Homo sapiens: one gene and its partner. The protein of the gene in region 2 interacts with the protein of the main gene of each other region in a pairwise test. Each region holds a gene or a part of one and is shown on either strand. Other genes may lie near its edges. The genes, in order: UBTD1 and BRD10.

Evidence for each region.
Region 1: the proteins of BRD10 (region 2) and UBTD1 interact in a two-hybrid assay, tested with the Homo sapiens proteins (one study listed by BioGRID).

Annotation. Positions count from the first base shown.
Region 1 is NC_000010.11:97,564,725-97,568,439, reverse strand, and holds part of UBTD1 (ubiquitin domain-containing protein 1), read right to left. Parts: intron 527-3,715; coding exon 299-526; intron 1-298. UniProt on the Homo sapiens protein: May be involved in the regulation of cellular senescence through a positive feedback loop with TP53. Is a TP53 downstream target gene that increases the stability of TP53 protein by promoting the ubiquitination and degradation of MDM2.
Region 2 is NC_000009.12:5,921,426-5,925,249, forward strand, and holds part of BRD10 (uncharacterized bromodomain-containing protein 10), read right to left. Parts: intron 3,421-3,824; coding exon 3,233-3,420; intron 1,885-3,232; coding exon 1-1,884.

The DNA of each region.
Region 1 (3,715 bases), on a different chromosome or scaffold from region 2:
TCTCAAAAAAAAAAATAAAATAAAAAGGTCAGTGCCTTGGATGTTCTGGGGTCCCAAAGTGCATTTGTGACACTGCTTTGCAGGTTTGTTGTCTTTCTGTCATGTCATTAGGCAAGCATAGACTGTGTCTCTTTTTCTTTGTGTACCCACTCCTGGTCCATGCTCAGTAAGGGGTGCTTGAATGAATGAATACGTGAGTAACCACCTGCCCCACCGCTCCACACTCCTCAACACCCTCAAACTGTGCTGGTGACCCCCTAGCTCCAGCGGGGATAAAGCCCTGGCCCTGCCCACTTACCATGAGGCAGGGTGATGCTGGCTCCATCCAGGATGGCCTGGGCCAGCTCGTGGTCGTTGGCTTCAGCAGCATAGGCGGCAGCCTTGAGGGCATCCCAGATCTCCTTGCGGCCCTCGAAGGCAGGCGCTGTGTCCCAGAACTCATCCCGTTTGCTCCGCAGCTGCCCGTCAGTCATGGGGTAGTCGCTCTTCCACTTAAGCCGCTCTTTCTTCAGGGGCTCATTGCGTCCTGGGCAGGACAGAAGGAGAGGCTCAGCATCTCTAAAGCCACTTGAGCTGCAACCTGCCCTCCCCCTCCCCTCCCCTCCCCAGGCCAGACCCTGAAACCCTGCTGCACTGGCTACTAAGTATTCAGGTCTTTGAAGCCCTTCCTAAATAGCAGGGAAGAGTCAGAAAACTTCACATAACCAACCTAGGGACATAAAATAATTGTGTCAGCAAAGCATACGCTACCATTGTTTTTGTTTTTTGTTTTTTGTTTTTGAGATGGAGTTTCACTCTTGTTGCCCAGGCTGGAGTGCAATGGCATGACCTCGGCTCACTGCAACCTCCGCCTCCCGGGTTCAAGCGACTCTCCTGCCTCAGCCTCCCGAGTAGCTGGGATTACAGGCGCCCACCACCACGCCTGATTAATTTTTGTATTTTTAGTAGAGATGGGGTTTCACCATGTTAGTCAGGCTGGTCTCAAACTCCTGACCTCGTGATCCACCCGCCTCAGCCTCCCGAAGTACTGGGATTACAGGCGTGAGCCACCGCACCCTTCCCACATGATGTGGGGCAGGGCGCGGTGGCTCACGCCTGTAATCCCAGCACTTTGGGAGGCAGTAGGATTGCTTGAGCCCGGCAGTTCTAGACCACCCAGGGCAACATGGTAAAACCCTGTTTCTACAAAAAAATTTTAAAAATTAGCCAGGCATGATGGCACGCTCCTCTAGTTCCAGCTACTTGGGAGGCTGAGATGGGAGAATCACTTGAGCCTGGGAGGTTGAGGCTGCAGTGAGCTGTGGTCATGCCACTGCACTCCATCCTGGGCAACACAGCGAAACCATGTCTCAAAAAAAAAATTATTAACAATTTTAACATCTTGTTACTAATGTCCCACTTAAAAAAAGGATTTTTTAAGCAATCATGACCAACAAACTCCCCCAAAAATTCCTGCAGCATCTGACAAAGAAAACAATTCTGTCAAATGTCATTTTTCTTGTTACCCAGCTCCAAGTGACCTCCAAGACAACTCCAAACCACAGCCAAGACTGAGGGCAGAGGTATCTCTCAAAGGCTTTTGGAGGCTCAGTCATCTCAAAACTAAAGGCAGAGTGAGCCACAGGAGTGAGATGTGAAGCACTCTGCTTCCACTATAACTCAGGTCCTACAGTGAGTGGAAGAACTGAGGCTGGGGGCCACCACCAGGCTGCTCCCACTGGCTGGGGCAAAAGGAAGCAAGGAAGAGAATTGCAGGCAGCGATCTCCGCTGAGAAAGAACCCCAGGCAAGCCTTTATTTATATACATGATCCCATTTCATTCTTGCAGTAGCCTTAGGCAGTAGGTATTATTATTGCTATTTCACAGGTGATATGACAGATTTAGAGAGATTAAATGACTTGCCCCAGGTCACATAGTAAGTGAGTGAGGGTTCCACCTCAGGTCTGACTAAATCCTGTAGTTCACCATCTGAATTCACAGTTACCTGTAGGGGCAGAAAACTCTAAAGCCAAATATTTAATTTAAAGTGTTCCTGGGGTGGTGAGGTGGCAGAAGGAAAGGCAAACCCTCTTTGGAGGAAAACAACTTCAAACCAGGCCTCAAAGAATTCCCAAGATAAAGTTCCAAGAAAAATAAATAAGGTAATAGTTTTAAAAAAAAAAAAAAAAATCTCAATATGCAAGGAAACAAGGCAGTACGAGCTTTACTGGCAAAAACAGCAGACAAAAGAATCAGATTTGCAAAGACTTTGGATAGATTATGAAATACTGAGTTAAGGGATGAGGGCCTTAAAAATATGAATAAGAGATTATAAAGAATGACCAAGGAGATTTTTTAAAAATGTTTAATTTTTGTGGGTACATAGTAGGTATAACCAAGAAGATCTTAAAAGAACCATATAGAACTTCTAAAAATTAAAAATACAGGCCAGGCCTAGTGGCTCACACCTGTAGTCCCAGCACTTTGGGAGGTCAAGGCAGATGGATCACTTGAGCCCAGGAATTCGAGATCAGCCTGGGCAATATGGCAAAAACCTGTCTCTACAAAAAATACAAAAAATTAGTCGGGCATGGTGGCATGCAGCTGTAGTCCCAGTTATTTAGGAGGCTGAGGTGGGAGGATCACCTGAGCCCAGAAAGGTTGAGGCTGCAGTGAGCCATGATCATGCCACTGCACTCCAAATCCAGCCTGGGTGACAAAGTGAGACCCTGTCTCAAAAAAATAAAAAGAAAATAAAAATAAAGAAAAATACAATATAATTGAGATTCGGATGTCTTTTTTCTGTTTGAGAGACAAGGTCACTCTGTCGCCCAGTCTGGAGTGCGGTGGTGTGATCATAGCTCACTGCAGCCTCAAACTCCTGGGCTCAAGGTATTCTCCCCCAGCAGCCTCCCAAGCAGCTGGGACTATATAGGTGACACTATGCCCTGCTAGGTCTAAAATTTTGAACTGAATTTCCAGAAGTATACAATAGGGAAAATGGGAAGGAAGCAACATTCAAAGAAATCATGGAGATGTCCACTCCCCCTAAACTGATCTATAAATGTAATACAATTCCAATATAATTCCTGTCAGTTTTTTCCCAAGGAACCTGGCAAACTGATTCTAAATTTTATATAGAAGAACAAAGATGTTCCTAGAAAAGAATCAGGTGGGAGAAGTTGTGCTGCCATGATCAGCATTAATTATAAAGCTACAGTTGGCACAGTACTGGAACAGGGACAGACTGTTGGACAAAAAAAGCCAAACCCCGTAAAATATTTGAAGAGATTTATTCTGAGCCAAATGTGAGGGCCATGACTTGTGATGCAGTCTCAAGAGGTTCTGAGAACATGTGCCCAAGGTAGTTGGATTACAGCTTGGTTTTATATGTTTTAGGGAGATTTAAGACATCAATCATTACATGTGAGATATACATTGGTTTGTGTGGAAAGGAGCGACAACTTGAAGGGGCGGGGACTTAAAGGTCATAGGTGGATTTAAAGATGTTCTGGTTGGCAATTGGTTGAAAGAGTTATTATCTTAAGTCCTCGAATCAACAGAAAGGAATGTCTGGGTTAAGATAAGGAGTTGTGGGCTGGGGGTGGTGGCTCATGCCTGTAATCCCAACACTTTGGGAGGCCAAGGTGGGCAGATCACCTGAGGTCAGGAGTTCGAGACCAGCTGGGCCAACACTGTGAAATCCCATCTCTACTAAAAATACAAAAATTAGCT
Region 2 (3,824 bases):
CAACAAGAGTTGGGGTTGATGTACCACTAGGAACTGGGGCATTAATAAAAACTAATTTCTGGGCAGAAACACCTGTAGATGTCAGCGCAGGTGTCATATTAATTGCAGTTCCATTGCCAGAAGAAAGAATAGATGGAGCTGATACCAGCATAAGTTTCTGAACTGGAGTCCCACTGATTACATCTCCATTTGTTGCTGCTGTTGCTTCTGACCTTGTAACAGGGTAACTTTTTGTGATATAATCTACTTGTTGCTGTTTAGTTGGAGTATGAATAATATTTGCATTGTTTTGTCCAAAATTTGCTGCTGATATGCTAATTACACTTACCGAACTACTTGTTGTTGATGGTAGTAGAGTACTAGAACAAATAGAGGACTTCAAGGGAGAAGAGGGCATGTGTGAAGTTTTATCTATCACGTGGCCCAAATCACCACTGCCAGTGGTGTGGCCTAATGTAAGTTTGAGATTTTTCCCCATGGATGGGGCAAAGCTAGCTGGAATGGAAACAGAAGTTGGTGTTTGGCTAAAAGGTGAAAGACTAGATGTAGTAGTTGTTCCAGCTACAGGTGAAAAAGCAGAGGAAGAAGTTGTTGATTTTGGCACCAGAAATGCCTGCAGCTGAGGAGCAAAAGTGAAAACTGAACTTGAAGATACAGTATTGGGTGAATTTTGATCTGGGTTGGTCTGTACTTTTACAACTCCAGTGTTCCCACCTCGTGTCCTAACAAGAATTGACTGTGAATCTCTTATGCACACAGTTTTCAGCTCTTGCTTTGCTTCAGAAGAATCAGCAGTCTGTTGTGCAAAACAGTTGAAGGAACTACCAGGATTTGTAGACCCATTTAGTGTTGTTGTTGATGACAGAGGCTGACCTGTGGAGGAAATGGTCGGTGAAGCACTGGGCAAGGAGAATGTGGCTGCTGAAACTGCATTCTTGGCTTTTCCTGCCTCACTCTGGCTAGTCTTAACTGATGGTGTTAATAAGTTACTTACAGAGGTTACAGGCGACAAAGGCTGTGGTCTAGCACTACTTATATTTGATAAAGGTGTAATTGTTTTGTTGAAAGCTGTATTTGGTAGTTGGGTAGAAACAGTTCCTGGTGAGTTGACAAAAACTGATGCTAAAGAAGAATTTATATTTGTTGTCTGTGGGAAAGATGAACAATGTTGTTCTGTACCTTTCTGTTGAAGTGGTGGCACTTCTTTTGCAACTGCTTTTCCTTCTTTATGCTGAATCACAAAATTCTTAGGCAGAATAAGAACTTGCTGCATGATTTTTTCTCCTGTTTTAGGATCCACCATAGGCTGCACCTGAATCTTTACAGAGCTATTTTGAAGATCTATTGGCAACCACTGGCCACAGGGCATTTTGTATACCATTTGTAAAGGACCTTTTGTATTGGTGTGGCAGGTCAATGCTGGCTTTATCGGGCTTGCTTCCGGAGGAGATAAAACTGGTTTTTCCACAGCAAGAGCATTTCTACCTGTGGAAGGAGGCAGTTGATTTGTTAAGGTCACTTTATTCCCAATATTCTTTGCAAGCAAAGCCTGAATGGGTTTGGTCCCTTTCTGGAGAGTAGACACTGGTACTGAATCCAATGAGGCAAATGACTCTGGAAATGATGGCTCTGTATGCTTTGATTCACTGAAACAGTCAATCTGCACATCACTTTCTAGATTCTCAACTGTTGTCTCATTTGTGCTTAACTTTGCCTTCTTCCTTGGAGAAAGCTCTTTTGTGCTGTCATCCACATAATCAGTTTGTTTGGACTGTCGTTTAAGTGTTTTAAGCAGTGTCTTCGGTAAGTCTTTTGAAGGCAATTCCTTTTTCAACAGCTTGCTTCTAGCCATAGGAAAATCTATTTCTGACAACTTCATATCATCTGAAAATTATAAAAACGGGCATTTTGTTTATATAAAACAGCAACTAAATAGTAATAACATCAACTGTAAAAAAGAAAGTCAATCTTTGAGCTGGCAGTGTATTAAGAAATCTACTGCAGGGTGATTCAAAAGCCTTAGCACCACTGATGAAGACAAAGGTAAGGTCATCTTTGACATGATAATCTAGATATCATAACCATGCCCAAGAAAAACCTATTATTGAGAAAATTTTTTTGGTCAAAATTTTTGGTCAAGAATTCTGCTAATTCTTCTGCCAGTGTAAGTGCAAAAAACTGTTTCATTAGAAATACCCAAATAAACAATCAGGGCTCAGAATTTAATTTGCAAAGGAATCTAGTTCTCTTTTTCTAGCTAGGAACATTTTGATACCATAGAGAGATGGTTCTCCAATCTATTCTATTTCTAGAGACTCTAAAGGACAAAAAATATCCAGCTTTTACTGATGTTCATCCTTATAGTGAAAAAATTTATGTTCATATTCGGTCAAACTAGGTTTATAAGACATTACTCTTAATTTGCCAAAGATGGAAAACAATAAGTTAATGCATTTCTAACCACTCTGTTGCCCATATTAACCTCTACATAACCAAAGAAAGTCATTAAACTAGATTTACATAACGTAATCTGATAAACTGAAATGAATTACAGGTAATCTAATCCAGCCCTTTATCCTTATTAAAATGATGTGTTCATTCTGGTCTCATTAGGCCATCAACCATGGTAATTCCTGAAAAAATAATCTTCACAATATTAAGAACTTGTCAAATTCTATTTCTAAAGTAAATTTCAGATACAGTGCTTCAAAAATACTAATAATAAAAAGAAGAGCATGAACCAATTTCAAAGGGATTACAGATCAAGGGTGTGTGGTTTGTAATGGGCAATGACAGGCCTACAGTTTGCAGTCAATTACTGGCTCCTGAAACTCCTAGAAATGTAATAATGACTCCAAGAAACTTTTTTTTTTTTTTGAGACAGCATTTTGCTCTGTTGCCCAGTCTAGAAAGCAGTGGACAGCTCACTGTAACCTTAAATTCCTGGCCTCAAGTGATACTCCTATCTCGACCTCTTGAATAGCTGGGACTACAGGGATGCAACCACCATGCCTGGCTAATTTTTATTTATTTTTTTGTTGAGATGGGGTCTCGCTATGTTGCCTAGGCTAGTAGAAACTTCTTATAAGGATGTGGACACTACTTCTTCAAAACATAACAGATTTCCCTAATCAATATATTTCATTGACCATATTATCTTTTGCCTTCACAGCAAACAAAAACTTCTCTTTGTGCCTTCAGTGTTGACTTAAAAAAAAAGTTTAATGCTTACCTGAATCAAAGTGATCTTTCTCCAGGATATCCAGAGGTTCTGTTGAGTCTATAGACTTACTGATTTCTCCCTTAGGAGAGTCTTTTCCAAGATCTCCTTCACCTTCATCAGTGGTCCATAGTTCTCTATTAAATGTATCATGATCAGGTTGTCTTCTGAAATCATCATAGTCTTTCTTCAGGCGGCTCCTGAAATAAAATGCCCAACATAATAAATAATACATATGATTTAAATTCTTGGAATCTAAACTAACTTTTAACATTTTAAACTACATATGGAAATATTTTTTATTAAGTCACTAGAAATGCTTTAATCTTAAGTGTGTCTAAGATGCTTAGTTCAGTCTTGCCAATGCTCAGGAAGACAGAACCTATGGTATAGGCATAAGAAACTTGAAACTTAAAAAATTATATGTATCTGGCCAGGCATGGTGGCTCATGCCTATAATCCCAGCACTTTGGGAGGCCGAGGTAGGCAGACCTCTTGAGCCCAGGAGTTTGAGACCAGCCTGGCCAACACGGTGAAGCCCTGTCTCTACTAAAAATACAAAAATTAGCCAGGCGTGGTGGTGGGCACCTGTAATCCCAGCTAT